Linked DNA regions of Homo sapiens: region 1 is linked to region 2. The links come from fine-mapping of genetic effects on plasma protein levels. Region 2 holds a variant in brackets. A gene starts in the other region. All regions are shown on their reverse strands.

Region 1 (15,227 bases), not on the chromosome of region 2:
TGGGGTCACAAGGTTCCAACTCCAGGGTCCTGAATTCTGATCTTAGATACCAGGTTTGGCCTTCAAGTTCTGGAATCTATGTTCCAGAATTCGGCTTCCCAAGACCCACAGCCCAGAATCCAGGCTCCAGAATTCAGGCTCCCCGAGATCCAGGCTTCAGAATCCGAGCTCCCTCAGACCCAAGCTCCGAATCCGGGCTCCCTGAGATCCAGGTTCCGGAATCCGGGCTCCTGGAGATCCAGGCTCCGGAATCCGAGCTCCCTCAGATCCAGGTTCCGGAATCCGGGCTCCCCGAGATCCAGGCTCCGGAATCCGAGCTCCCTCAGAACCAGGCTCTGGAATCCGGGCTCCTCCAGATCCAGGTTCCGGAATCCGGGCTCCAGGCTCGCATTCCGGGCTGGGAGCCAGCCACAGCCGTTAGGCTGAGATTTTTAAAATCTGGCGCCAAAATCCACTCCCCGGGTGGGAGTGGCGGTGCCGGGTGGAGGTCAGTGGAATGGACGGGTCGGGACTGGGGCCCTCACGGGCTGCATAGTCCCAGGGTCCGGGATTTCTCTCCCGCGGCCCCGTACCCTCTCCCCAAAAGCAGACAGCAGTTGGTCACTAACTTTCTTTTCTTTTCTTTTCTTTTTTTTTTTTTCAGACGAAGGTTCGCTTTTGTAGCCCGGGCTGGAGTGCAATGGCGCGATCTTGGCTCACTGCAACCTCCGCCTCCTGGGTTCAAGCGATTCTCCTGCCTCAGCCTTCCGAGTAGCTGGGGTCACAGGCGCCTGCCACCACGCCCGGCTAATTTTTTTTTTTTTTTTTTTAAGTGGAGACGGGGTTTCGCCATGGTGGTCATTCTGGTCTCGCACTCCTGACCTCAGGTGATCCGCCCGCCTCGGACTCCCAAAGTTGGGATTACAGGCGTGAGCCACCGCGCCCAGCCAATTGGTCACTAATTTCTAGCTCCCGGGGGAAAGAGGGTCCCGCGTTCGAATCCCGCCTCCGCTACGCCCCTGGTGCGGATTCCCCGACCGGTCCCTAACCTTCCTGTGCCTCAGTTTTCCATAATGGAAATGGGCCCGGAGCCCCCTGGCGCGTGTGGTGCCTTGGGAGGCCCCTCGGAATGGACGGGGCAGCTTTGCGGGATGCCCCAGACCTCGGGCTCTGGGCGCAGCTGCCAGCAGCAGCCTGGGCGTGGGTGCCCCCGGGGGGACCACGGTCTCAGCTGTCACCGCCCCTCCCGTTCGGCGCCAAAATTTGAAAATTGCCCAGCGCCTCCCAAACTGCGCGCTGGGAGGGGGAAAGCCCCGGGCCCCACCCACGGGAAGCGCGGGGCTTTCTGGGACTTGGAGTCCAGTCCCTGGGGGTCCCGCGGGGATGGCTCTGGGCACCCGAAGCCCCTCCCCAGCGCCGAGACAGGAGGGCTGGGGTAGATTCGAGACCCCGGTTTGCAGAGCGCAAGACTGAGGCCCAGGGCCGCGCAGTCAGGCAGGAAACGGCGCTCCTGGCGGATGGAACAGCACGGGCAAAGGCTGGGTATGGGGGTATGTGGGGATGGAAGTGCCCAGAGGGGCAGCGCGATGGGGTTGGGGGCGGGACCCCGCAGGGCCTCCAGTAAGGGGCTAGTTGGGGGATCTGGTCAGCCAGTGGCCAAGGCCGGTGGTCAGTGAGAAGTTGATGCGGAGCGGGGGGGCGGTTTCAGATCAGTCTGAGGGTGGAGAATAGGAAAAGTGACCCGGCCGGGCGTGGTGGCTCATACCAGTAATCCCAGCACTTTGGGAGGCCGAGGCTGGCAGATCACCTGAGATCAGGAGTTCGAGACCAGCCTGGTCCAACATGGTGAAACCCCGTCTCTACTAAAAACACAAAAATTAGCCGGGCGTTGTGGCACATGCCTGTAGTCCCAGCTACTCAGGAGGCTCAGGCAGGAGAATCACAAGAACCCAGGAGGCGGAGGTTGCAGAGAGCTGAGATCGTGCACTTCAGCCTGGGCTACAGAGCAAGACTCTGTCTCAAAAAAAAAAAAAAGTGACCCCATTTCCCACCCAAACCTCAATCATCCTTCTCCCCTCTGGCCCCGCCTCCTGTAGTATTATTTATTTCCCATTGTGCTTTACCATCTGTCTTTATATTTTATATTCCTCCCTTTATGAGGAAGGAAAACAGTATCAGTCCTCTAAATACGCAGTCACTGCTTAGCTCCCTCTTGCCTGGCTGGTTTATTTGTTGTTTGTTTTGAGAAAGAGTCTTGCAGCTGGGCACGGTGTCTCACGCCTGTAATCCCAGCACTTTGCAGGGCCGAGGTGGGCGGATCATTTGAGGTCAGGAGTTCAAGACCAGCCTGGCCAACATGGTGAAACCCCGTCTCTAGCAAAAATTAGCTGGGCCGTAGTGGCGCACGCCTGTAATCCCAGCTACTCGGGAGGCTGAGGCAGGAGAATCACTTGACCCTGGGAGGTGGAGGTTGTAGTAAGCCGAGATCAAGCCACTGCACTGCAATCTGGGTGACAGGGTGAGACCCTGTCCCCCCTGCCAAAAAAAAAAAAAAAGAGAGAGAGAGTCTTGCGCTGTCATCCAGGCTGGAGTGAAATGGTGCAATCATAGCTCACTGCAGCCTCCACCTCCTGGGCTTAAGCCATCTCCTTGACTCGGCCTCCCAAGTAGCTGGGGATACAGATGCACGCCACCACGACCAACTAATTAAAAAAATTTTTTTGTAGGGGCCGGGTGCAGTGGCTCACACCTGTAATCCCAGCACTTTGCGAAACCGAGGTGAGCAGATCACTTGAGGTCCAGAGTTCAAGACCAGCCTGGCCAACATGAGGAAACTCTACAAAAATACAAAAATTAGCCAGGCATGGTGGCGCATGCCTGTCATCCCAGCTACTCAGGAGGCTGAGGCAGGAGAATCTCTTGAACCCAGGAGGAGGAGGTTGCAGTGAGCCAAGATTGGGCCACTGCACTCCAGCCTGGGGGACAGAAAGACTCTGTCTCCAAAAAAAAAAAAAAAAAAAAAACTGTAGAGTATTGTAGAGTTGGGTCTTGCTATGTTGCCCAGGCTGGTCTCAAACTCCTGGGCTCAAGCCATTTTCTTGTCTCAGCCTCCCAGAGTGGCTGGGATTGCAGGTGTGAGCCACCATGCCAGGCTTCCTGCCTGGGTTCTAAGGCTGGGGGTCTATCTGGTAAGAGGGGAATAATAGCGAGTGAATGTTGGCTGTTGGAGGCAGGTGGGCTCTTTCCCCTGGTGTCCTCAGTAGGCTGGAAAGGGCATTAGATTCTCAGTGTGTGATTTACTGGGGTCTCTGGCAGAGGCTGAGCCAAACCCCCAAGGTGAGATGTGTAAAAAGGAGGAGTTCCCCAGGCAGAAGGAAGACCGGGCCAGTTCTAGGTCAGGAGGAAGTTATTCTCCAATTGGGGCAATTTTGCCCCTCTGGTGACATGTGGCAATCTCTGGAGACATACTTGGTTTTCATAACTAGGGGGCCGGGGTCGGACGCGGTGGCTGACGCCTGTAATCCCAGCAACGTGGGAGGCCAAGGCGGGCAGATCATTTGAGGTCAGGAGTTCAAGACCAGCCTGGCCAACATGGCAAAACCCTGTCTCTACTAAAAATACAGAAACTTAGCCGGGCATGGTGGCAAGTGCCTGTAATCCCAGCTACTCGGGAGAGTGAGGCAGGAGAATCGCTGGAACCCGGGAGGCGGAGGTTGCAATGAGCCGAGATCACGCCACTGCACTGCAGCCTGGGCCACAGAGCGAGACCCGCCTCAACTAAAAATAAAAATAAAATAAAAAATAAGTATGAGGCTGGGATGCTCGTGGCATGGAGTGGGTGGAGACCGAGGATGCTGCTCAATACCCTGTAATGGACAGCACCTCCTGACTCCAACCCCCTGCAACAGAGAGTGATCTGGCCCCAAATATCTAGTGCAGAGTTGGAGAAACACTGCTGTATAGGTTGTCTTGTTAAATTACAATTTTGGGGGGTTTTTTTTGGAGACGGAGTCTTGCTCTGTCGCCCAGGCTGGAGTGCAGTGGTGTGATCTCAGCTCACTGCAACCTTTGCCTCCTGGGTTCAAGCGATTCTCGTGCCTCAGCCTCCCAAGTAGCTGGGATTACAGGCGTACACCACCACGCCTGGCTAATTTTTGTACTTTTTGGAGAGACAGGTTTTTGCCATTTTGGCCAGGCTGGTCTCGAACTCCTGGCCTCAGGTGGTCTGCCCGCCTCGGCCTCCCAAAGTGCTGAGATTACAGGCATGAGCCACCGCGCCTGGCCTTGTTAAATAAAATGTATGGCAGGCCATTGTTTTAGACAATGGGGTCTCTAGTCCCCAGCAGACCAGATAAAATTGGAATGGAGTCACTAGTGCCAGGTACCACGTAGTCAAACTGATCTTTTATTTTTTTTATTTTTTGAAATAGGGTCTCGCTCCGTTGCCCACACTGGAGTGCAGTGGCGCAATCATGGCTGACTGCAGACTTGAACTCCTGGATGCAAGCCATTCTCCTGCCTCAGCCTCCCGAGGAGCTGGGACTACAGGTGTGTGCCAGCACATGTGGCTAATTATTAAAAATTTTTTTGGCTGGGTGCCGTGGCTCACGCCTGTAACTGCAGCACTTTGGGAGGTCGAGGTGGGTGGATCACGAGGTCAGGAGTTCAGGACCAGCCTGGCCAAGATGGTGAAACCAGGTCTCTACTAAAAATACAAACATTAGCTGGGCATGGTGGCGGGTGCCTGTAATCCCAGCTACTCGGGAGGCAGAGAATTGCTTGAACCCAGGAGGTGGAGGTTGCAGTGAGCCGAGATCATGCCATTGCACTCCAGCCTGGGTGACAAGAGCAAGACTCTGTCTCCAAAAAAAAAAAATTTTTTTTTTTGGAGACAGAGTCTCACTATGTTGCCCAGGATGTTCTCAAACTCCTAGGCTTAAGCGATCTCCCCATCTCAGCCTCCCAAAGTGCTGAGATTACAGGTGAGAGCCACCCGTACCTGGCCTCAAACTGAACTTTAAAGGGTGCAGGTTTTCAAAAAAAAACATTCACAGCCACCAAGCCAAAGGGGACCGGTTAACCTGATAGGGAAGTACCCTCAAAATAGAGGGGGTTAAAACAGACCCTATGAAAAAAGTAACTTTGAAACAACCAATTGGTTTTTATTTCGTATTTTTATTTTTACTTTTTTTGAGACAAACTCTCACTCTGTCACCCAGGCTGGAATGCAGTGATGTGATCAGGGCTCACTGCAACCTTGACCTCTCTTGCTCAAACAATCCTGCCACCTTAGCCTCCCAAATACCTAGGACTATAGGCGCCCAGCTAATTTTTTTTTTTTTTTTTTTTTGAGGTGGAGTCTTACTCTGTTGCCTAGGCTGGAGTGCAGTGGTTCAATCTTGGCTCCCTGCAACCTCCGCCTCCCGGGTTAAAGCAATTCTCCTGCCTCAGCTTCCCGAGTAGCTGAGACTACAGGCATGTGCCACCATGCCTGGCTAATTTTTGTATTTTTAGTAGAGACGGGATTTCACCATATTGGTCAGGCTGGTCTCGAACTCCTGACCTCATGATCTGCCCGGCTTGGCCTCCTAAAGTGCTGGGAATACAGGTGTGAGCCACTGCACCTGGCTAATTTTTTTATTTTTATTTTTAGAAATGGGGTCTTGCTATGTTGCCCAGGCCAGTCTCAAACTCCTGGGCTCAGGCTATCCTCCCACCTCCGCCTCCCAAAGTGCTGGCATTACAGGCGTGAGCAAACCACTGTACCTGGCCTGGCTTTTATTTTAATTCTTATTTCTCCTTTCTTCAGCCTTTTCTGCCTGTAATGCAGAATGCCCATCCTCTCTGCTCAGCTCATTGGAGTGCCTATTTAATAGATTGAATGCTATCCAATTCATGAATTGCTAATAAGAGCCAATGAGATCATTAAACTCAATTTGTTGAAATTCATACTCCTTGACAGCCTCTTCTGGACATTTTATATCAGTGGCATTGTACACTATATGGCTTTTTTTTTTTTTTTTTTTTTTTTTTGAGACAAAGTTTCTCATTGTTGCCCAGGCTGGAGTGCAGTGCCGCGATCTTGGCTTACTGCAACCTCCACGTCCCAAGTTCAAGAGATTCTCCTGCCTCAGCCTCCCAAGTAGCTGGGATTACCGGCGCGCGCCTCCGTAGTAGAGATGGTGTGGGGGGGTCTCCCTATGTGGTCCAGGCTGATCTCGAAATTCTTTTCTCAAGTGATCCACCGGCCTTGGCCTCCCAAAGTGCTGGGATTACAGGCGTGAGCCACCACGCCCGGCCCTATATGGCCTTTTGTGTCTGGTTCTTTGAACACGTTTTGAGGTTCTCTAAGTGGGGAAACAGGTACTAGAAAGCAACCCAACGCTGTTTCCTCGTGGCGGAGCTGGGAGTTTGCAGCCAGGAAGTCTGTCTCTGGAGTCAGCGCCTCTGCGAAGCGAGAGCTGGACGGAGACTTCAACTTCCGGCGTGCCCCGCGCGCGCCCGGCGGTCGGACTACCAGTCCCAGGCTGCCCCGCCGCGGCGGGCGGCGGGCGCGGCGCGGCGCGGCGCCATCTTGCAGCCGGCGGCGCGGATTGAATGAGCCCGCCGAGCCCGGGCCGCCGTCGGGAGCAGCGCAGGCCGCGAGCCGCCGCCACCATGGCCACGCCGCTGCCCGGCCGCGCGGGCGGGCCCGCCACGCCGCTGTCGCCCACGCGCCTGTCGCGGCTGCAGGAGAAGGAGGAGCTGCGCGAGCTCAACGACCGCCTGGCGCACTACATCGACCGCGTCCGCGCGCTGGAGCTGGAGAACGACCGGCTCCTGCTCAAGATCTCAGAGAAGGAGGAGGTGACCACGCGCGAGGTGGGCGCCGGGGCTTAGGGGCCGGGCGGGGGTGCAGCCGGCAGGCCCCGCCCACCGCGGGGCGCGCGATCGCGGGGACCCTGGGCGGGGGTGCAGACGGGGACGGGCCCCGGCTTCGGGGGTTTCCGCGGGGTTTCGGGGGGCCCCTGAGTGAGGGGTGCAGCTCGGCCAGGTCCCTCCCACCGCGGGGTGGGCAATCGCTGGGACCCTGGGTGCAGACAGGGACGGGCCCGGGTCTCGAGGGTCTCCAGGGGGTTTCGAGGGGCCCCTGAGTGAGCGGTGCAGTTCGGCCAGGCCCCGCCCACCGCGGGGTGCGTGATCGCGGGGACCCTGGGCGGGGGTGCAGACGGGGACAGGCTCCGGCTCGGGGGTCTCCAGGAGGTTTGGGGGCTTCTGAGTGAGGGGTGCTGCTCGGCTAGGCCCAGCCCACTGCGGGGCTCCCAGTCGCGGGGAACCCTGAGCTGGGATGCAGACGGGGACAGTCCGGCCTCGGGGATCTCCGCCGCGTTTCGGAGAGTCCCTGAGTGAAAGGTGCTACTCGGCCAGGCCCCGCCCACCACGGGGCGCGCGATCGCGGGGGACTCTGAACGACTCCCGGCTTGGGGTCTCCAGGGGGTTTGCGGGGGGCTCCTGGATGAAGGGTGCAGGTCCTGGCCACCGCGGGGTGCGCGATCGCGGGGACCCTGGGCAGGGGTGCAGACCGGGAAGGGTCCCGGCTTGGGGGTCTCCAGGGGGTTTCAAGGGGTCCCTGAGTGAGGGGTGCAGCTCGGCCAGGCCCAGCCCACCGCGGAGTACGCGATCACGGGGGACCCTGAGCAGGGGTGGGGTCAGCCTGGCCTCGGGGATCTCCAGGGGGAGACCCTGAGTGAGGGGTGCCACCTGGGCAGGCCCTGCCCACCGCAGTTTCCGAGATCTTGGGGGACCCCTTGGGAGGGGTGCAGACCGGAGTGGCCCATTCTCTTGGGGACCTCCAGGGGGTTTCTAGGGCACTGAGTGAAAAGTGCAGACCAGGAATGCCCCACCTATGGAGGGGGTCCCAGGAGATCTTCCGTGTCCTGAGTGAGGGCTGCAGAGGGGCCTCCAGCTAGCTCTGGGGACCCTTCCGTGAGAGGTGCATTTTGGGGCCATGGGGGTTACAGACTAGGGCTCCCCACCAAAGAGAGGTCCTGGGGATTTGGGGGCTCCCTGAGTATTGGGCTGCAGCCCCCCATATGCCTCGTCCCTCAGAGGATTCCAAGGAGACTTGGCGGACCCCCCCCAACTGAGGGGGTGTGAGTGGGAGTCTCTGGGGATGAAGCTGGGTATTGGGGTATCTGGGGTGGAATGGGGGTGGTCTCTGGGCTCCAAGGAGACTGGGGGGCCCAGGCCCTCTGAGGAGGCCCAAGATGGGGTGTGTGGGGGGTCTCCCTGGAGTCTCTGGGGTGAGTCACGTGGTCTCAGTTCTCCCTGGAGCTTTAGCGAGTTCCCTGATGAATCCAGAAGAGATTGGTGACTGGGGTGGGAATTAGGCCCCTCATCTCTCACCAGGCCCAGGGTGGGTAGGGGGCCGAGGGAGAGGTTCTGATACCTTGGGGTCCCACGGGAAATTTGGGAGTCCCTTATTTGTGCCCTGGTGTCAGCGGTGGTCTGGCAGGTTCTGCCCCCAAGAGAATATGAAGGAAGGGTGAGAGTTGGGATCTTGGGTCCGGTGGAAAGTGTTGAGGTTCTGAATGGGCCCCGAGGCTTCAGTGCAGACTGAAGGAGAAGAGGCGGGAAAGTCTGCCCACCAAGGGGACATGAGGTCGGGGTGTCTTGGGGTCTGGGTGCAATCTGTCCTGCCCCCCAACCTAACCCTGGGGAGGCTCTTTGTCCCTCCCACTGGCCATGCCCAATCCAAGGACAGGACTCCAGAACGGGGGGCAGGCAGGAGCACCCACTTGATTCCTGCCATGGGTTGGGGTCCTGGGGTCCCTAGGCCCCAGTGTCCTGTTGGGAGAGCTGGGTGCCGAAGTCGGGATTTGCAGCGCCCAGTCCCCACTCGCCCATCTGGAGATCAGAGGACGTGGTGGGCTTCTGGGAGAAGAGCTGCTTGTTGAGGGGGTCGGGTCATTTCTGGGAGCCACTTACCCTCTGTGTGACCTTGGGCTAGTCGCTTACCCTCTCTGGGTCTCAGTGCCCTCGCCTTTGGAATGGGTGTAATTATAATACCCACCTCTTACTTGTGTGTGGGGCCACAGCAGGTTAACTTTTGTTCAGTAGCTCCCTGTGGGTTGTTTTCACAGTGCCCTGGGGACAGGGAACCTGAAAGAATGTAGCTGGTGCCTTCAGGGAGGTAGAAGGAAGATCAGTGCTTGGTGGGATCCCCTGCTTTTCTTTCTTTTTTTTTTTTTTTTTTTTTGAGATAGAGTCTCGCTCCGTCGTCCAGGCTGGAGTGCAGTGGCGCGATCTTAGCTCCCCGCACCCTCTGCCTCCCGGGTTCAAGTGATTCTCCTGCCCCCGTCTCCCGAGTAGCTGGGATTACAGGTGTTCACCACCATGCCCGGCTCATTTTTGTATTTTTAGTAGAGACAGAGTTTGGCCTTGTTGGTCAGGCTGGTCTCAAACTCCTGGCCTCAGGTGATCTGCCTGCCTCGGCCTCCCAAAGTACTGGGATTACAGGTGTGAGCCGCCGTGCCTGGCCAGTCCCCTGCTTTTCAATTAGTGTGGCTTTGGGCAGGCCCCTGTGTCTCTTGGAGCCTCCATCTTGCCATCTGTCCAGTGCGGAGTTGTCCCAACTTAGAGGCCGCCTGCTGGACCCGTGGCGTGCAGGGTTAGAGCTGGTTTCTTGTCTTTGGGCCTCTGTTATCCCACCTGCCAATGGGACGAACAGCTGCAGGGAGCTTTGAGGGTGCAGGGCCTGGTGAGTGCTGGGGAGGTACCAGCCCCAGCCCCACTGGACGCCCCATTGGACCGGCCCTGTGCCCTAGAGGGAGCCTGGCCCAGCCACCTCTCGGGGCCGCAGCAGCATCCTTTACAACTCAGTTCACTCAGGCTGGGTGAAATGCGGGTCTGACTCCAGTGAAGGCAGCCATTTAGCAGGTGACACACTGGCCCCTCCGTGAGCCCTGTCACCCAGCCGTGTCTGCAGGGCATGTGGCAGGGGACAGCTGGGAGTTCCGCCTGCGACTAGTGGGCCAGGAACCCGGCTAGTGGGGAGCAGAGTTGGAAGCCTGCTGGGGTGGGGGCCGCTGGTGGGGGGACGTCATGTGGGCCCACATGGAGGGAGTGACCTGGAATAGCTGGGGGCCTTCTAGACACAGGTGGGCCACGTGGGGTTCAGAGAGCAGCCTCAGGCTCAGGCTGGCAGGATGGGGGCAGGGGAGGGAGCTCTGAACGAGGAGGGACCTGGGGTGTCAGGCCTAAGAGCATGCAGGTCACCTGGACAGCAGGGCCTCTCTCACCTGGCCAGCTTCTGCCCCCAGGGGACTCTTGGCCAAGGCTGGGCATGCCCTTGGTTGTCACATTGGGAGGGAGACGGCATCGGCACAGCGTGGGTGGAGGCTGGGTACTGCTCAGCGCCCCGAGAAGAGAATCACCTGGCCCCCACGAGGATGACGCAGCCCTCACGAGGATGACCCAGCCCCATGAGGATGACCCAGCCCCCACGAGGATGACCCAGCCCCCACGAGGATGACCCAGCCCCCATTAGGATGACCCAGCCCCCATTAGGATGACCCATCCCCCATTAGGATGACCCAGCCCCCATGAGGATGACGCAGCCCCCATGAGGATGACCCATCCCCCACGAGGATGACGCAGCCTCCATGAGGGTAACACGGCCCCCATGAGAATGGCCAGGCCGAGGAGCCTGCTGGGAGGCGTGAGGGACTCAGTTCAGATTTTTTCAGGCTCATAACACGACTCACAGCATCCTGGTGTGTGGCGGCCCCCGAGGTCCTCACACACGCCTTTCTCACTTCTTTTTTGAGATAGAGTCTCACTCTGTCGCCCAGGCTGGAGTGCAGTGGTGTGATCTCGGCTGACTGCAACCTCTGCCTCCCAGGTTCAAGCAATTCTCCTGCCTCACCCTCCTAAGTAGCTGGGATTACAGGCGTGTACCACCACACCCGGCTAATTTTTGTATTTTTAGTAGAGATGGGATTTCACCATGTTGGCCAGGATGGTCTCTATCTCTTGACCTTGTGATCTGCCCGCCTCAGCTTTCCAAAATGCTGGGATTGCAGGTGTGAGCCAGTATGCCTGGCCTTTTTTTTTTTCTAGACAGAGTCTCTCTCTGTCGCCCAGGCTGGTGTGCAGTGGCGTGATCTTGGCTCACTGCAACCTCTACCTCCTGGGTTCAAGGGCTTCTCGTGCCTCAGCCTTCTGAGTAGCTGGGATTACAGGCGCCCACCACCATGCCCGGCTAACTTGCTCACTTCTTTCCTGCCCGCAGGAGTTCACCCTTGCACACTCGTACAAAACCAGGCCAAGCATGGGTTCCACATTCCCATGTGACACTAGGGGGTGTCTTTTGGCGGTGTGGATGAATCGCCATATACAAGCATCGTTGGAGGGCTTGGGAAAGGGTGGGGTGGGGGCTGGCCAGATGGGTATTTGTTGAAGGAGGATCACTGAGTGCTGGGGGCGGGGGCAGGTGCAGGGAGGCCGCGCTGTGGCCCGTGTCCAGGCGCGGGAGAGGCAGGTACTCCAGGTACTTCCCTGCCAGGCCTTACGTTCCCGAGGGAGGAGACCTGGCTTCGGCATCTTCTGTCTTCCCCTGCCCCGGTGTCCCCTGGCTGCTCAGGGCTGCTGGAGGGGGTCTCGGAGGCGGCCCAGGCGAGCGTGGAGGATGGAGTCCACTTTGGAAGTGACCCCAAGCCGGTGTTTGCATTTTCTGCACAGGGCTGTAGTTCTTAGCCGGGCCATTTTGTCCCACCGTGGCCTCCTCCAGCCGAGTTATGCTGCTCTGTGTGTCCGAGGGGTCCCAGGCAAAGGCCATCTCAGGCTATCTGAGCCCTGCCAGGCCCACATGTGTGGACACACTTGTTGACTTCCCTCAAGCCTAGCACTTGCTAGATGCCGTGAAAGATGAAAGAAAAGGCCCAGCCTGTCCCCAGCCCTTTGCAGCGCCTCACAAGCACAAGGAGGCCGTCCTGCCCCGGCACACCCGTTCCGCAGGCTCAAAGGGTCTTTGTGAGGTGCCCCAGCCTCTAGAACTTTCCTCATCATCACAGCACGGCAGACCAGGCATGGTCAGCAGACTTTTTCTAAAAAAGGCCAGACTGTCTGCATCTGAACCACTCAGCTCTGCCATAGGATGAAAGCTGCCTTAGCCCATAGGTGAATAAGTGGGTGCTGCTATGTGTCAATAAAACTTTATTTATACACATGGAACTGTGAAGTGCATAGAATCTGCCTGTGTCACAAAGTCTCTTCATCTTCCCCCCTGGCCTTTATCGTTTTTGTTTTTGAGACAGTCTCGTTTTCCAGGCTGGAATGCAGTGGCACAATCTCCGCTCACTTCAACCTCTGCCTCCCGGATTCAGGCGATGAAGCGATTCTTGTGCCTCAGCCTCCCCAGTAGCTGGGATCACAGGTTTGCACTGCCACGCCCAGCTAATTTTTGTATTTTTAGCAGAGATGGGGTTTCACCATGCTGGTCAGGCTGGTCTCGAACTCCTGACCTCAGGGGATCTGCCAGCCTCTGCCTCCCAAAGTGCTGGGATTATAGGCATGAGCCACCTCTCCTGGCTACCCCTAGCCATTTAAAAATGTAAAAACCGTCTGGGCGCAGTGGCTCACACCTATAATCCCAGCACTTTGGGAGGCCGAGGTGGGCGGATCACGAGGTCAGGAGATTGAAACCAGCCTGGCCAACATGGTGAAGCCCCGTCTCTACTAAAAATACAAAAATTAGCTGGGCGTGGTGGTGCACGGCTATAGTCCCAGTTACTTGGGAGGCAGGAGAATCGCTTGAACCCGGGAAGCAGAGGTTGCTGTGAGCTCAGATCATGCCACTGCACTCCAGCCTGGGCAACAGAGTCTTGCCCTGTGCTCGCCCAGGCTGGAATGCAATGGTGCAATTTTTGTGTTTTTAGTAGAGATGGGGTTTCACCATGTTGACCAGACTGGTCTTAAATTCCTGACCTCAGGTGATCTGCCCGCCTCAGCCTCCCATCATCTTATGCCAGGTGCGGTGGCTCATGCCTGTAATCCCAGCACTTTGGAAGGCTGAGGCAGGCTGATCCTCCTGCCTCAGCCTCCCAAAGTTGTAGGACTGCAGCTGTGAGCCACTGCTCCCAGCAACATCCATCATGTATTCAGACTTCCTCAGTTTCCCCGATGTCCTTTCCTGCCCCAAGACCCCATCCACTATCTCACGTGACATTTAGTGACTACGTCACTGTCTCCCAGGCTCCTCCAGGCTGATAGTTTCCCCCACGTTCCTGGTTAGAGGTTCTGGTTGGTCCTGAGCGGGCTGGGCAGGTGTGCAGTAGGATGTTCCTCAATGGGGGTTTGTGTGTTGTTTTGCTCATCGTCACGCTGGGGCGATGGGATGAGTAATGTTTTAATGGAATATATATATATATGTGTATATATATATGTATATGTATATGTATTTTATTTTCTTTTTTTTGAGACGGAGTTTCACTCTGTTGCCCAGGCTGGAGTGCAGTGGCGTGATCTTGGCTCACCACAACCTCCGCCTCCCTGGTTCAAGCGATTCTCCTGCCTCAGCCTCCTGGGTAGCTGGGATTACAGGCATACACCACCATGCCCGGCTAATTCTGTATTTTTAGTAGAGACAGGGTTTCTCCATGTTGGTCAGGCTGGTCTCGAACTCCTGACCTCAGGTGATCCAACTGCCTTGGCCTCCCGAAGTGCTGGGATGACAGGCGTGAGCCACGGCGCCCAGACATATGTATATTTTTTTTGAGACAGGGTCTCTCTGTACCACCCAGGCTGCAGCGTAGTGGCGTGATCTCAGCTCACTGCAACCTCTGCCTCCCGGGTTCAAGTGATTCTCCTGTCTCAGCCTCCCGAGTAGCTGGGATTACAGGCGCCTACCACCACACCCAGCTAATTTGTGTTTTAATAGAGACAGGGTTTCACCATGTTGGCCAGGCTGGTCTCGAACTGCTGACCTCAAGTAATTCGCCCGCCTCAGCCTCCCAAAGTGCTGGGATTTCAGGCATGCACCAGCGCACCGGGCCCTAATGGATTATCTTTTAAAAATCAATTAATTCAAAAAATCTACAATGAACAAACTATTAATTCAAGTCAGGTGTCGTTTAGTGACAGGGATACCTTGTGGAAAGCGTGTCGTTAGGAGACGTGCCCCTTGTGTGGGCATGGTAGAGTGCACTCCCACACTCCCGGATGGTGGAAGCCACCACACACCCAGGCTTGGGCGTGGCCTCCTAGGCCACAGACCCACACCGCCCGCTCCTCTGTGGAATGCTGTGGGCACCGGTTACACAATGGTAAGTATGTGAGCATTTAAACACGAGAAAGGGCTGGGTGCGGTGGCTCCCGCCTATAATCCCAGTACTTTGGGAGGCTGGGGCAGGCAGATTGCTTGAGTCCAGGAGTTTGAGACCAGCCTGGGCAACATAGCAAGACCCCATCTCTTAAAAAAAAAGTTAGAAACTAATTAGGCAGGCATAGTAGTATGTGTGCCTATAGTCCCAGCTATTGGGGCAGCTGAGACAGGAGGATTGCTTGAGCCCAGAGTTTGAGGCTGCAGTGAGCTGTGATTGCGGCATTGCTCTCCAGGCTGGGTGTGGCTCTGTCTCAAAATAAGTAAATAAACACAAGAAAGGTGCAGTAAGAATATGGTATTAGATTCTTTTTCTTTTTATTTTTTGAAGTGGAGTCTGGCTGTCGCCAGGCTGGAGTGCAATGGCCCAATCTTGGCTCACAGCAACCCCTGCCTCCTGGGTTCAAGCAATTTTCCTGCCTCAGCCTCCTGAGTAGCTGGTATTACAGGTGCACGCCACCATGCCCGGCTAATTTTTTTGTATTTTTAGTAGAGACAGGGTTTCACCGTGTTAACAAGGATGGTCTTGATCTCCTAACCTCGTAATCCGCCCACCTCAGCCTCCCAAAGTGCTGGGATGACAGGGGTGAGCCCCCATGCCAGGTTTGCATTAGAGTCTTACAGGACCGCCGTGCACATGGTCTGGGGGTGCTCAGCATGCCTCTGTGCGTGTGGCTGCCATTGCAGAGTTGCTGTTTTTTCTCACCTTGAACGGGCTCCTGTGTGTCCCGGCGCTGATCTTGTCTTTGTTGGAAACTCTGCTGTTTTGTTCATCCTGGCCCCTCTGCCTCGTGAGCCGCAGTCAGCTCTCTCTCTGTGGGGACAGGAGAGCTCGTGTGTGACCCCCATCCTGAGGGTGTCCCGTCAGCCCCTCCCTTGAGGTTAGGGG
Region 2 (15,227 bases):
CCATTCTACAGAGGAGGACGCTGACACAGAGAGGTTAAGAAACTTGCTTAAGGTCACGCAGTCAGGAAATGGGGGAGCCAGGAAATGAATGTATAGGGTCTGACCTCTGAAAGAACATTCACTAAATGGTGTAGAGTGTTTATTTCGGGATGGACAGGGGCTGAGGTGAGATTCTGGAGGCCGTGGGGTATTAGGGGAGAGGTCCAGACGCCAATTCTATTCCTGCAGTACTGTGTGATCTTGGGCAAGTCATCTGCTTCTCTGTGCTTACCTGGGAACCAGAGGCGATGGTGCAGGGCTACCGAGAGAAGTAAATAGGATAACGTACCCACAGCGCCCAGCTCGAGGCCCTCCATCAGCCGACGATGGGAATGTTTGGTGGAGTAAGTCTGCCCTTCAAGGCCTGAAAGCCCCGTCCCGGTTCCCTGCGCCAGGGCCGCACAGGGGTGGGGAGAGGGCCGCAGGGCCTGGTTGCTTGGCTTGAGGCAGGGTCCTCCCTCAGGGCCTCGGCTCTCCCAGCTGTCGGCCGCGCTGCAGCTTCCCCTGCTCTGGACCGCGACTGCCTGGGCTGGGCGGCCGCACCACGGAATGCGCAGGGGTCATTTTTGGAAGAGCTCAGCTCCAGGCGCAAGGTGCCAAGAGCAGGGCGGATGACTTCAAAGGGCCTTTGCAGCACGTCCTGAAAGATGAGCCCTTGCAGCTCTCCCTGCCCCCGCAGAACACACAGCTTGAAAGGGAAATCGAGCTCGGAGCAGGTGGCTCAGGAATTTGGTGCACGCTGGGGAGGCAGCTCATTTGGGCACAAATACGCGAGGAGGGCGTGGCCTCCTTACACTCCCGGTTAGTATTGCGCGTTTGGGTCCGGGGTAAGCTCGCCTTCTGAGCTTTCATCGCTGGCCGCATTTCGCATTTATTTTTCTGTTTATTTCATGATCCCTTTCTTCCCCGACGAGGGCCTGGGATTTGTCTGTTGCTCTCTGTGTCTACAGTTCGACCTGCAGCGGAGGATGAGTAAATGTTTCCCTAGTGAATGAATGCGTTTTCCTCTTCCACCGGTTTCATCACGTTGGAAAGGCACCGGGGTTTAATCCTGCCTCTAGTAATAACCAGTTGGGTAATCTTGGACTTCGCTGTTCAGCTATAGGCTTAAAATCTGCCTCCATTTGAACCCAGGCCCTGCCTCTTACTAGCTGCGTCACTTTAGAAAGTTGCCAAACTTCTCTGTGTTTCAATTTCCTCATTTGGGCAACGGGGTACTGAGTGCCTATGTCACAGATTGGAGTGAGGGATAAAGGGCTTAACACATACGAAGCGCGACTAGGACGGCACATAGTAAGGTCTAGATAAATATTAACTCGTATTATTTTATTATTATTTTAAAATCAACTTTATTAAAGTATTAACTTACAAACAATAAAATGCACTCATTTTAAAGTATACAGTTTGATGAGTTTTGACTGATATGTACACCCATGTAAGCACCACCTCAATCAAGATAAGCATTTCCAGGTCCCCGAAAGTTCCCTTTGTCCCTTTTAGTCAAGTGCTTCCCTCGCCCTAGCACCTGACTGATGAGTTTTGCCGGTTCTCGAACTTTCCATGAGTCTGGGAATGGTGGTTCACGCCTCTAATCCCAGCACTTTGGGAGACTGAAGCAGGAGGATCACTTGAGCCCAGGAATTTGAGACCAGCCTGGGCAACGTAGGGAGACCCAGTCTCTACAAAAATTTTTTTAAAAAATTAGCTGGGCTGGTTGGCATGCACCTGTAGTTCCAGCTACTTGCAGGCTGAGGCAGGAAGATCACTTGAGCCCAGGAGTTTGAGACCAGCCTGGGCCACATAGGGAAACCCTGTCTCTACAAAAAAAATTTAAAAAAAATTAACCAGGCATAATGCATTGCACTAACACTTATTCCACACTCAAGAAACGCTCTCTCCTACCTCCTCTCCCTTCTTCCCGTTAAAGGGGTCCTTCCAAGGGTATCGGGAGGCAGGAATCTAAAGGTCAAGGGCACTGTGGAGTTGATGGGGGAGAAACCACTGTGTTTATAAAGCAGGTTGTTATTTTTTCATTCTTTGCCTTGTGTCCTTTCCCCTACTTCCCTCTTTTGAGGATAATTAAAATGCAAGCTGGCACTCCCTTGGAGGAGACAGCTGAAGATTTAATTGCCCCAAGAAAAATTTTCCAGCAAAAGGTCCTGTGGTAATGGCAGCTCTCGGCCGGGCTGCCCGAGTGCCTTTGCATCTGGCACAAAACATTAGCGATAATGCATTAATCTGCATGTGCACAGGGTCCATTTACTGGCATGGGGGGGAGCCATGGCAGAATCAAGCCGACAGCCTTAGTCAGGCTGCAGCCTTCTTGCCATTAAACTCTCACCCGGCCTCATTCTGGAGACAGGTCTGTGGCCCAGATCCATGCGACCGGCTGCCGCACCAGCTGACCTTGCCCAGAGAGGGCCTGCGGGGGCAGAAGGCCCAGGTTGGTGGGAACGGCACCTTCTACCATGAGGGCTTGGCCTGTTGTCATTGAAGCAGAGCCAGGAGGACAAGTCTGTTGAGAGGCTGAGCCCCGCCAGCTCCCAAAGTTGAGCCATTGACCAGCCACGCTAGGGTTGTGCAATTTGAGAGTAGACAAATTTTTGCAATCTTTTATCCTGTTTTCTAAGTATAGCCCCAGTTTCTCTAGAAGAGGAACCAAAGGCTCAGACAAAGGTCATTGGCTCCTTGCCTGTTGGGGATCATGCGTCATTTTTTTAAAAAAGTGATTGCCCTGAACCCAGGATCATGATGAAAGGCAGAGAAACTCAGTGGGAAAAGTCAGATGTACTGAGGTTTGCTTCTAGTTCCAAACCTGCCAGCCAGGGACTCTCAGTTCTCCTAAAATGCCAAGCAGACTCCGACTTTTATGCTCTTCCTTCTCCCCCTTTGCTCTCTTCCCTCCCTCTCCCCCTTCCTTTCTTCCTTCCCACCCATCCACCCATCCGTGCTCTCCTGCATCAATCCAGCCATCCATTCAGCCTCCCTTCTTCCATCCATCTATCCTCTCATCCTCCTTCTCATCACTCCGTCCATCCTCCCATCCCTCTAATATTTGCTGGGTGCCTCCTATGGGCTTAGCATAGGAGTTACACTGATGAGTGAATCAACACCCTCCTTGCCCTGAGGCAGCAACTGGGGCAGTAGAGGAGAGGATGGTAATCATGTAATCACAGTGCCAATGTATAATTACAAATTGAGATGAGGGCTACAAAGAAGGGCTGGACATGGTTACTATGGAAGTGTTTGACAAGGGAACTTAGCCCAGCCTCTGGATTGGAGGACAAGCAGGAAAGATCCAGGGAGTGTTGCAGGCAGAGGGAGTAGCTCATGCCGGGGTCCTGTGGTTCATTTTAGAAACTGGCAGGAGGCTGGTGTTGCCAGTGCAGGGAGTGATGGAGAGAGTGGTGTGAATCGGGCTGCAGAGCTCAGTAGGGGCCAGTGCACACAGGGACGGCTGGCCTCTGCCAGGCACTGGCTCCTTGGAACTCCTTTGCACTGGCTCTTTTGCACTTACCTGGCTTCTTGTTACTTATTTTTTAGATCTCAGTTCAGGGATTTCCTCTTCAAGAAGTCTTTTTCTGCCCTGTGCAGGCTGAATGAAGCCAGTATACTTTCCTTTAATAAGACAAAGTATCTCAAATTTGGAAATAAGGCAAAAGAAGGCAGTGCTTCATCTCGTTGCCATACTGGGGCACGGTTTAAAAGCCCCACTGAAGGATTAGTTAGTTCTGTAGAAGAATATACCTGAGTTTGTCTTTCCTATTTGATTAAGGCCCAGATTGGGGCTAATTTGTAGACTTTTGTCTGGTGGGTGCAAATGGCTTCTGTCTGGCAGAAAAAAAATATCTCCAAAGATATGGCCTTATTGCCTTGTGGGACATTAACCGGATTGATCTCTAACTTGAAAATGTTATTCTCACCTTCCTTTTTCAAAGCCTCTAAGTGCCCATTTACTCTTGGAACCAGCTCTTGCCCCACTGCTGGCTCACTCATTAGTGTGTTAATTCTGCACTTGTACGTCATGTTTGTCACGCCCTTCTCAGCAGCGCTCATCCCTGCACTGGGATTGCCAGTGGCTCTGGTTCCCTCATATATGAGCTCATATGGGTGTGGTCCATTTTTTGTCCACATTGTGTCCTCAGAACTTTGCACAGGGCCAGGTTCCAGTAGGAGCTTGAGAAATAATTACTAGTTGAAAGATCTTGAACTTATTACCTCTCCACCTCTCTGAGCCTCAATTTTCTTCCCTGTGAAATTGACATTCCATTTGTAAAGAATGTGAAGGTTCCATGAAGTAAAGAATTCGAGTGTCCAGAGTCCAGCGTGGCACATGGTAGGCTTTAGTCTCCCTTATCCTAGGGGCTGAATCCCAAAGGTAGAGCGTGAAGTTCTGGTTTGGGAGCTCATGTCTGGTCAAGAGGACACCAAGTCACTGGAGGAATGACTCATGGTGGGGCTAGGGAAGTCAAAGGAGTTGCTATATAGTATTTCTTGGGAGAGGAAAATCAACCTGGCCAAGGAGTCCAGCAGGGGCTGGGGAGGAGCAGGAAATGTTCTTAAACAGGTCAGGTGGTGGTATAAGGCAGAGGACTCCGAAAACCAAGCTGGGGTGTTGCACCCCATACCCGAAAGGTTGGTAAGAGAGACCTATCTCAGGCTAATGAGAAAGAGAGGGACTTGATAAAATTATTCGTCAGAAGACCCACCATTGCAGCGATGCTCTAATAACCTGGCCTGATATGTGAGTGTGTGGGTGTGAATGTGTGTGTGTTTCTGTGCATATGTCGACTGCTGTCTGCACCACACTGCTGCAAAGAGTCTTAAATCTACTTTCTCATCGAACTCTCGCAAGAACCCCCGGAGGTGAAGGCTGCTACTATCCCTGTTTCACAGGTGACAAAGCAGAGGCCCAGTGGTGAATCTCTTTGCCCAAGGTCACAGGGCAAGGACTCTGGGGTGCAGTTGTATCCGATTCCAATGGGTGGAGGAGGAGGAAAAGTGATGGAAGGAATCTCAGGAGATGAAGTGATAACAGATAATGGCTTATGCTTGTAGCCATCCTTAATCTTTGTGCTGTTTAGCATCTTTCACTGTTTTCTGTGCTGTTTTGATCACGGGGATGTTCATCTTTCCAATGAACTCAGCGACACTCCTTGGGCCCCTCACTGGGGCCAGGCCCTGGGCTGGGTTCAGCTACCGAAGATAAGGTGTTGACACTAACTTTAAAAAATAGATTGGCCGGGGGTGGGGAGGGGCAGGCATCAAAGGTTGAGGGGGACAGGGCTGGGCATCTATCTTTTAAAAAATTCAAGGCATAACTTATATACAGGGAAATGCACCCATCTTAAATGTGCAGCTGGAAAGGTTTTTACATATGCAACCTCCCAGATAACCACGACTCAGGAAGACGTAGAGCATGTGCCACCCCAGGCTTCTCCTGGTCCTCCCTCCAAGGGCAGCCACTCTTCTGATCTCTGTTGCCAAGGTTTTGCCTGTTTTTGAACATCAGGAGCACGTCTTCTTAAAAAGCATCTTCAATGTCATAATCTTGTATTCAGAAAAGAAACCAAGAGCCTGGTCAGGCACAGTGAAGAGGGTGGTGAAGCGGGGTGGTGTCGGGGATCCCAGCAGTGGCAGGCTCAAGGGTGCCTCGGCTGGCTGGTGAGCAGCCAGGCAGCCATATCACCCTGATGTTCTGACACTTTGGTGGTGAGATGTGGTGTTTCTGGCTACTGACAGTGTCCAGTGTATCCTGAACATTATCTATGCCCCCCACTTTCTCACTATCAGCCCCAGCCCCCATCATATGCCCATTCAGTGCTGGACTAGACCATACCCACAGTGGCGTCACTTCCCGGATGGCGACCTTGGAGCAAAATGCTTAATCTCTCTGTGTTTCCATTTCTTTATTAAGTGGGGGATAATCATAGTACCTAACTCATAGGTTTGTTAAGAGAATAAAGTGAATTAATTTTAATAAATACTTGTCCAGAGTTTAGGAGAGTGTCTAATATGTAGTATGTGTTTATGCCAAAATTAAATAAACCTTCGTCAAAACTTGGCTGTTGGAAATGTGCTAGAAGACACATGGGCTTTTACAGTTGGGCATTCAAATCTTGGGGTTGGGGGCCAGTGGAGATTTTCCTGATTATCACGTAAAATGGGCAGGGGCTTCAGGTGGAAGGCAGAGGACTCTGGCCTGGTCCTCATGGAGGAAGGGAGTCTTAGCATTCTCCTTTGCACCAGGAGGAACCCCAAGGAGGTGTCCGATAAATGCCAAATGCTTGACTGATTTCCTGGAGGGCTGGAAAAGGGCCACTTAGCTCCCATCAACTTTCATTTCGCCTGCCAGCCTCCAGCCCTGGAGATTTGGCCGTGGAGAAGCAAGGCCCAGGTGCTGCATGAAATACACCCACCAAGTCTCCTTGTCTGGACACGCAGTCCATCATCCCCCACCTTCCCAGAGAATGGAAGGCATTTCCCCACCCACTCGGCCTGGATTCATGCCTTGAACACCCCATTCCTGCAAGCAGTGCACATATTTCATGGGTTGCTCCCGGAGGGAGGCGGAGAGCTGAACTCAGGCCACGGGCCAGGAAACTGCTGAGCTGTCTGTTACAGCCAAGGTCCTGGCCTGAGAGGAGGGTGACCTCTCTGAGCCCCGCAGAAGGCTCCTTGGTTCAGGTGGTCTCTGATCACATGGACCAGGCCAAGGGTGTAGGGATGATCCCCAGTGGGCTTGTGGATCTGAGTTCAAGTCTCAACTTGACTAAAGACTCTGCGTGAGATTGGTCATGTCACATGCACTTCCAGAACCTCATCTTTCCTTCTTTGCAAAATGGGCACAACCACAGCGATCTGATAGTCATGAGAATTAAATGAGGCAGTAAGTACAGTGTGGGGGAGAAGAGTCAGATTCCCTGGCTTCAAACTGCTCTGCCATGGGACATTGGAGAAATGACTTCTCCGTGTCTCAGTTTCCTTATCTGCAAAGCACAGAGAACAAGAGTTCCTCCCTCATGTAGCTGGGAGAAGGAAATGAGTTCTAACTGTGAAGCACGCGGCAGCACACTTGGCATAGCTGTTATTAGCTATCATGGTGGTTAATTTTGCAGTCAGTGGTCCATACATGACGTATTGATTATTAACCCAGTGGCTAAGCATCAGGCACTACAGTTATCCAGTTGGAACTGGAGGCTCAGTAACATCACTCATTAGCTGTGTGAACCTGTGTAAGTTGCACCCTCTCTCTGTGTCATCTACAGTCAGTAACATAATTGCCCTTGAGTCACAAGGTTTAAGAATTCATCAAGGTAAAGCGTTGACACATAGTAACCACTAAATATTAACATATTTATGCCTTAACTTTATTACATAATTAGCACTAATATCATTAATGATCTAATGGAGGGATAGAAAGGAAACTAACATTTATTGAGCACCCACTATAAACCAGCACTTGACATCAGTCATCTGGCAAGGATATTACAGGACAAGCATTAGATGTCTGCATTTGGTGGGGAAGGAAAGTGAGGCCCCAGGAGGAGGGTGAGCCGGGTGTCCGAGATCCCATCAGTGGTGAGAGGCCACGAGACTCAGCTATGCAGGGTCAGGGCAGGAAGGAAAGACACAAGCCTCAGTGATGGCCTACCCAGTGCCAAGCGTGGGCTCAGTGCTTCCAACCTCCTTGAATCCACACAGTCACCCTGGCAGGGACTATTCCTGCCCCATTGTGCCGACGCGGGGCCCAAGTCTCAAAGAGGTGCTGTTTGAACTCCCACAGCTACAAAGCAGCAGAGCCGAGATCCAAACTCAGTTGTCTATATGGAATTTTATCTCAACCTTACACCGGCTCCTTCTGAGCCAGGGCAAACAAAAATTGTACGTCTCTAAAACCTACGTGAGGGGCTCAAATGCTGTAGGTTGTTTCCAAACCCTGGGGTCCATTCAATCCTCTTCCAGGCTTTGGCAGGAGGGC[A/G]GGCAGGCCCCGAGGCGGCCCCGGGACGCACTCACAAAGACAAGAATACTGAACACCGGAAGGACTCATTATTACCCAGAAATCTTTATTACAAAAATATTTTGCAAGCCAAAAAGTTTAAGTTGCAACTATATACAAAATGGGGCCTGTTTCCTTCCCAGCAGTCTTAAAATAAACTCCTGAAACCATGCTCCTTCCGCAGGGTTGGTTCGACCTCTTCCTTTTCCTGGGGTTCAATACACAAGGTATGTGGATTCTCCAGGTTGCCAGGCTAAAGCTAAAGCTATACATCTTCCTTGGCCTTATTCCCTTATTTCCCCCTCCAAGAATTAAAAAATAAAATAAAATGAAAATGGCACCAAGAAAACATTCTTTTAAAATACTGAATGTGTGTGTGCATGCGTGTGCACACGTATGTGCTGTCTCTGGGTAAAAGAGAGGGAGACGAAGGTTTACAAGCCAATCTTTTGGAATTTGGAACTAGCCTGAGCCAGGTGGCTGGGTCACTGTGGCTCCCAGATGCCACACGGGAGCTCTGGCCAAAGCTGTCCACATGGTCTGTTGGCTCAGCTAATTCCTGGATGCCATCATTGAAATCACCAGGTGACCATCCCCCAGAGAGCTGGGTCTATGCTGAGCTCCTGCAGTTTCACCTGTAGGACCTCCAGGAATGGGCAGGATGGCTCAGCTACTTTTACAGCCTGAGCCAGAAATCCCTTGGGCATCCCAAGGCCAGGAGTCATGAACATTAGCGTCTCAACTCTAAGAGTTATAGTGAAGACTGAATAAATAGGGCTTGCGACATCTGCTTGCCCTGGGCCCGGTCAGGCCCTCACACCCGACTGGAAGGGTGGGGGTTAAAGGGTAACTGGGTCACACCCTCTGGCCAACCTTCTGGGACAGAGGGGGAATCAGCCCGAGCTTCACAGCTGCACCATCCCCCTGGCTGTCTTCAATTTATTCCAGTTTGATCCCAGTAGGGTTTGAGAGCAGAAATGGAAGATTTCTTCTTCAAGGATCAGCTCAGAAAGCCGGGATGGGGGCGGTCACTAAAGGGGTAGGATAGACGGCCAGGGCCACTATCCCTACCCTCTGTGTGTTCCTAAAGTGCTTATGAGAGGTGGTGGGGAGGGGTGTCATCTTCACTATCCCCACTTTACGGATGAGCAGACTGAGGCATTGGGTCTCGATAAGACTGCACTGTCAAGAGGCAGCCCTCAGCAGCCCTGGGCAGGCTGGACTTACCACAGCGGGGTCACAGAAGGCTGCACTACCAGCCGCGTGGCTCAGCTGAGAACATGGCCAAGTCAGTCCCAGCCAGAAGGCTGTGTCTCCAGGGAGTGGCTGACCTGATCCTTCTTGCCCATTCTTGGGGTTCTGGGACTTGGAGGAACTCAAGTCTTCGCTGTAAGAAAATCCCTCCAGGACAACAAACTGTTAAACCTCAGACTTCACAAGACCCAACCATGGACTTCAACACATGACAGACAGCCAAGATCACGTTGCTGTTGTTTTAAGAAAAAAAACAAAACAAAACACCACAGATCAAGTTTTCTAACACCTCAGTTTCAAGATTGCACGTTTCACATTTCTCAGTAATTTACAGGCGTCCACAGCGAGATGTTGCTTAGTGCTAGCTGGAGGGGCAAGCTCAGGTCTAGAAGGGAGAGATGGGTCCGGGTGGAGCAACACAGTTGGGCCCCAGGGAGTCTTGGAGGGACCCAAGGAAGCAGAGGGTTTTGTCTCCAGTCCTTTGGGAGGGGTCCTCTCCTCCTCCAGGACTCATGGCTCTTTAGCCTAGGGATGGGGGAGGCCAGGACTGTTGGCAGCAACCTCACCAAGCCTGGATATGGGTTCCAGAGTTTTTTTCCAGCTTTTCCATGGAAGGGGCAGTTTGATCTAAAGGGGAAATCTTCCCCACTCTAGCCCCAGTTGGGTGGTGGTGGTAGTGGTGGTGGTGGTGGTGGTGGTGGTGGTGGAGGTGGTGGAGGTCAGGGGAGGTGGGATTTTCTCCTCCCCACCCTGGAAGATCAGGCTTCGGAGCATCGGGGAGGCAGTCGAGGGTCTTCAAAACCCACATGGTGATGGACGGAGGCACAAGAGTTCTTGGACCCCAGGCAGTTCTGGCCACTTCCCAGGTTGGTTCCCTGGCTGGTTTGGCAACGTCAGCCTCCAGGTATGTGGCAATGTGGGGGGAGGGGGCCGTGGCTGCCCAGGAAGTGCTGGAGAGCCAAGGAGGGGTGGGGAGAGAAGAGCCACCCTGGCCCCTGGGTCCCAGAGCCTGCACCGCCCCAGCCCTCCGGGAACTGGGTTGGCTGTGCTCATCACGGCGGCTCCCTGTGGGACAAGAAAGCGCGTAGAGATGGGTGCTAGAGCAAACCACGGTCCCATTCACTTCCTCGGGACCTGGACGCTGGCGTACTCTGAGAAGGACGGCTCAGGCTTGGGGGCCGGCTGCTTGGGGGTCCGGTTGAGGTGGACCATGTCCAGGTCAGCATAGGTGAGGGTGTCCTCCGACGCGGGCTGCGGGCTGGTCTGAATGCTGGCATACTCCGTGTGGTTGTTGGGCTCCGCAGCCTGGGGAGCAGGCTTCTTCCCCTTGGGCAGGTTCAGGTCTGCATATGTGATATCATTTGTGTCCTGGATTTAAGATACCCAAAGAGAAAGTCATGAGAAGGTCATTCTATAGCCCCTGGCCCACTCACTCAAACTGAATACCAAGTCTGGATGCTTCTGTGTCCTCTCGGCCCACACTGGCTCAGCCATAAGTCATGTTCCCCTCATCTCTTGCCAACGTTACTTGCCTCCAGCCTTGCCCCTTCCCATCTGCCCTCCTCCTCACCCTGCCTGAAGGGTCTTTCTGACCCGCACAGTGCAGTCTCCTCACAGCCCCGCCTCAGTGTCACCTCCTCCCGTTCCTGCCTCCTCCTAGCCTGAACCACCTGCAGTCTTCACCCATTTCTCATGTTCATCCCTCGAGGGTGTCTGTCCTGCTTCTCCTTGTAACAAATCCCAATCCACCATGTAAATTTCAGATGAAGCATGGCTCATACTAAGACCCTCCCTGGCTCTCCCCTCTCCTGGCAGGGTCCATGTTCCTTCTTTGTGCTTCCTCAGCCCATGTTTGTTTTCCATCACAGGGCCCGCTACCCAGGACCATGTCTGTTTGGGGGCCTGAGGAGGTGCTGCTGATGGTGGTACGTGTGGGGACATTCATTAATGTATGCGTTTATTCCACAAATATTCACTGGGCATTTGTTATGATTCAGAAACCAAGGCTGGCACATAAGAAGTCTGATCCATATTGAATGAATATATGAGTGGATGGCAATAATTTCACCTTCACTCAGGGCAAAGCTGGGGACAGGGAGACAGAGAACAGGGGCAGTATAAGAACGAGATCGCCAGTTAGTGAAGCGGGAAACGTTCTGGAGTCAGAAAGCCTGGGTTTGAATCCTGGTTCTAGCTCAGGGATTTTGAGCAATTCACTTAACCTCTCTGGGCCTCAGTTTCTCCATCTGTAAAGAGGGGATGATAATAGTGTCTACTGCCAGGGTTGCTGTGAGGATGGAATGAGATTATCCAGGTAAAGCGTTTAGAACAGAGCCTGGTACCTATTGAGCATCTGTCTTCAATAAATGTTCGCAATCATTAACCACTTAGCAAACTTGGATACCTCCCATGTGCTAATCCTATCAACCTGCCACTGCCGCCTCAAAAGCGCCCATCATGAATGATAAACTTTGCTCCCTCTGTGACTGGCCCCTGCGTGATAGAACAGAATAAAGCTACCACCAACCGGCACACCTCCTAGTTGGTGCACGGTAATGGCTGATTTCAGTTCTCAGGGCTTACAAGCAGCACACAATCACATAGATCACCCCATCCACTCTTACCACAACCCTGCTTGGGAAGGATTATCTATTCCACTTTACGGCTGAAGACACTGAGACCAAGGGAGGTTCAATAAAGTGGACAAAGTTGTCCGGCTGGCAAAGAACCAAAGTGTGTTGGACTCTACGACTGTGCTCTTAGCACACAGCTCCTCTGTCCTGAGCCCTGCGTGCTCTCATTTGCTTCTGTCTGGGAAATCCGTGTTGACAGCGTGCAACTCCCTCCCTGGCCAGGGCTGGCACCTGGCACTGGAATCGCAGGCACTCTGCCAGCTGGGCTGTGACTGTCTGGCTCACTGTCCAGTGCGTGGCACACAGTGGGTGCCCAGTAAGTCTCTGCTGTGAATTTCGTAGAGGTTTCCATGACCCATTCTTCTCACCATCATTTTTTTCCCCCAGAAGATTCCAGGAGGAAGTCCAGAAGTAAAATGATGGGGGAGAAGATCTCCCTCGCTCATGACTGGAAATTGTTTTTTCTTAATTACAACTCGAGCTCATGTCCGGGGCTGCGGGGGGACCCCATGGGTCACAAGGGCAGGGCCAAGGCATTTTGGTCTACAAATGCTGCGCCTTTCACCAGCCCGACTCCTTCAACAGATTACATCTAAAAAGATGACAACTGCCTTGGAAATGTCAAGGACAGCTGGCGCGCTCTCGTTCCGGGTTCAGAGCAGGGCCTGTCTTGTTACAAGATGCTGAGCAGCCCTCTGCCTTCAAGGTCTGACAGCATCAGCCGGTGATAAGCAGGGCTAGGTTTCTCAGAAACCGTGTTGCTGCAAAATCATCTCAGCAATGCTGACCAGAAACCTCCAGCTTGAGTGAGTGTGCCCTTGTGTGAGGTAATTAATGACATGGGGTCTTTCCATCAGCAAAGGTGGGAGAGGCCCTGGCAGGCTGGGCTTTGCAGTTCCAGCATAGAAAAGCCTGGCTGTGAGGAGCGGGCAGTGAGCTGGGAGTGGCGCTCCTGGTAGAGGGATGGGCCTGGGCAAATGTAGAGAGATGGGAAGGCACGATCCACACTAAGGGAGCTGCAGCCTGACTCCAGGGCACCATTTTCATAGGACGGATTGTGAATGGTGCCCCTGGGGAGTTGTGCAATGGGTCGCACTGAGTCATGAGGCTGCAACAGCCACTCTTGGCTGCAGTAGAGAGAAGGAATATGCACAGGACATGGGGAAAGCTAGGAGTGTAAGATCCTCCACCCTCCACCCCACAAGGAGTCTTAATTTAGAACCAGATCTGCAATTCCGGTTGATGTGAAGCAACCACGCCACGGAGTTTCCCAGGAAGGGCATCTCACCAAGGACTGTACCTGTGTTATTTCTCTGGCATTCTTCTCGGGCTCATGCAACCTAAAAAGGAAAGAGACACACAGATAAAAATACCCTCACTATCTCAAGTGCTCATGCAAACTGATAAGAATAACATTTAGGCTCCATTTTCTATATGGGTTGAGGACATGAACGAAGGACTCATAACAGAAATACAACTGCATATCAAATGTTTGGACAAAGGGGTCAATCTCACTAAAAAGGAATTCTAAGCAATGCACTATCATTTTTTTAACCTACTCTATTGGCAAGGATCTTTAAAAATTATAATACTTGGTGCTGGGGAAGCTATGGTGAAATGAACTGGAGCTTTCATACGTCACTGGTGGGAGAGGCAAACCAGTACAATCCTTTTGGGAAGCAGCTGGCAAAATCAAGAGCTTGGAAGATGTCCTCATCCTTTGACTCATAATTGCACTTTTTTTTGGGGGAATTCAAAATATAGAAAAAGCTTTCAACACAAAGGCATTTGTCAAGGGCTGGATGGGGGAGGAGGTTTATGTCTTAGGGCTCTGCCAATTGGGACTGGTTAGGGAAATTAGGATAAATCCACAGATAAAGATTTAAAAGGTTTATGAGGAGGTTTTTTTTTTAAGTTAAAATTGCTTACATTAAAATGATAAGTGAAAAAGGAAAATTCTCTGTAGGATTATCTCAATTATGAAAAATGTGTGGATAACACTGGAAGGAAACATAGCAAAATGCAAACTGCAGTGGTCTTTGCATGGTATTTTTTTTCTCCTTTTTAGTTTCCCATATTCTCCAAATGTTCTGTATTATAAACATCTATGTATCATCATTAAAGAAAGAAAAGAAAAAGACCAAGATGTCCAAGTTAATCAAAGAAGTTGTTCGTGCACTTGCTTCTGTAATTGGAGGTCATGACTTGACTCACTGGAGGGTCACGGTCAAGGTGATGAGCAAACCAGAGCCACTGGCTTGGCAGAAGTTGTGTAAATTCTCAAGCCGGCAACCCCGGGGATGTTAGCATGGATAATGTCAGAAATGAGCAGTGGGGCTTGGCAGCAGGGTTATTAATGGATTTGGCATGAGTGCTTGGCTCTGAAAGCAGTTCTGAGACATGACAAGCCCCACGTGGCCACAGAAAGAACCCTCCAGGAGCAGGGGCACGTCTGCTGGGGAAGATCACGCAGATCTGTCCCCACACTACTGGCCTCCAGCCCTCCTGGAGCTTCCCACTGGCTGGCTGGTTCAAGTCCAACTCATCGCCCTGCTCAGAGTCCCACGTGGTCTGACGTGCTGCCTCCAGGCTAATTCACTGCCCTGCCCTCATGTACCCACTCATCTGCCCACCAGATATTTCGGGGGGGGGGTGGCATTTGATGTTATGTACTTCATGCTTCAATAGCAGCCTCGAAGGACCCCTTTGATCATTTTTCCTCTTGGCTAACTTTCCTGTTTCCTTCAAGACTCAACTATGGTGTCACCTTGTGATGGCTCTGCTGACAGTGCTGCGCTGGCTGGGCTGCCCCTCCATGACAATCTCAGATCTCCTGTCTATCTGCATATCTGGTTTCTATTGCTGTCTGCCTGCCTGCCTGCCATGCTTCCTCACCACATGTGCTCAAAAACAGTGACTTGGAATGAATGCCAGTCAGGCTGCCCCAGGGCCTTTGCATGCTCCATGCTGCTGCCTCTTAATCTGCTTTAATCCTTTTCTTCCTTCAGATGCTATTTTTAAACAGCCTTTTCTTGGGGAAATATTCACTGAACCCCCAAACTCCATTCTCAAAACATTGGGTTCTTCTCTTTCAAAGCAATTTCAGACAATAACCAATTATCATTTTCCCCATATCTGTGTCTCCCCTGGATTTTCCTATTTCAGTGAATAGCTCTACCATCGGTCATCCTGTGCTCAGGCTGGAGAAGTGGGAGTCAGTCCTGATTCTTCTCTCTCTTCCTTTACAGCTCTCATCTAATCCAACCTAGGGCTCGTCGGCTCCACCTCCAAAATATCCATCA

Alleles and levels. Positions count from the first base shown, and alleles are read on the strand shown. Strength reflects both the effect of a copy and how common the allele is.
For the plasma level of the protein whose gene starts at base 6,551 in region 1, A is the high allele of the variant in region 2 and G is the other (weak association).

What was found. A credible set is the group of variants that fine-mapping cannot tell apart. PIP is the posterior inclusion probability: the model's chance that the variant is causal. Protein levels are from antibody-based Olink assays in UK Biobank. Linkage for the fine-mapping came from a reference panel and not from the study's own genotypes, which makes the PIPs less certain.
Region 1: LMNB2 starts here. The variant in region 2 is the best candidate, but not a certain one, in a credible set for the plasma level of the LMNB2 protein (UK Biobank, PIP 0.89).

Annotation. Positions count from the first base shown.
Region 1 is chr19:2,448,283-2,463,509 of GRCh38, reverse strand. It overlaps LMNB2 (lamin B2), which reads left to right and starts at 6,551. Exons shown (of 12, transcript NM_032737.4): 1 at 6,551-6,840. The coding sequence starts at 6,577. LINC01775 (long intergenic non-protein coding RNA 1775) reads left to right here and starts at 1,325. Exons shown (of 2, transcript NR_134931.1): 1 at 1,325-1,529; 2 at 4,410-4,573. RefSeq lists silencers at 1,069-1,138, 6,453-6,632, 6,753-7,002, 7,063-7,152, 7,383-7,562 and enhancers at 7,823-8,531, 8,532-9,242, 9,299-9,913, 9,914-10,528.
Region 2 is chr20:1,932,753-1,947,979 of GRCh38, reverse strand. SIRPA (signal regulatory protein alpha) reads right to left here. Exons shown (of 8, transcript NM_001040023.2): 7 at 13,226-13,265; 8 at 7,388-10,660. The coding sequence ends at 10,412. PDYN-AS1 (PDYN antisense RNA 1) reads right to left here and starts at 770. Exons shown (of 4, transcript NR_134520.1): 1 at 329-770. RefSeq lists enhancers at 1-471, 7,290-7,789, 7,790-8,291, 9,805-10,357, 10,358-10,912 and 1 more and a silencer at 483-777. The variant A/G (reference allele first, on the strand shown) is at 8,021.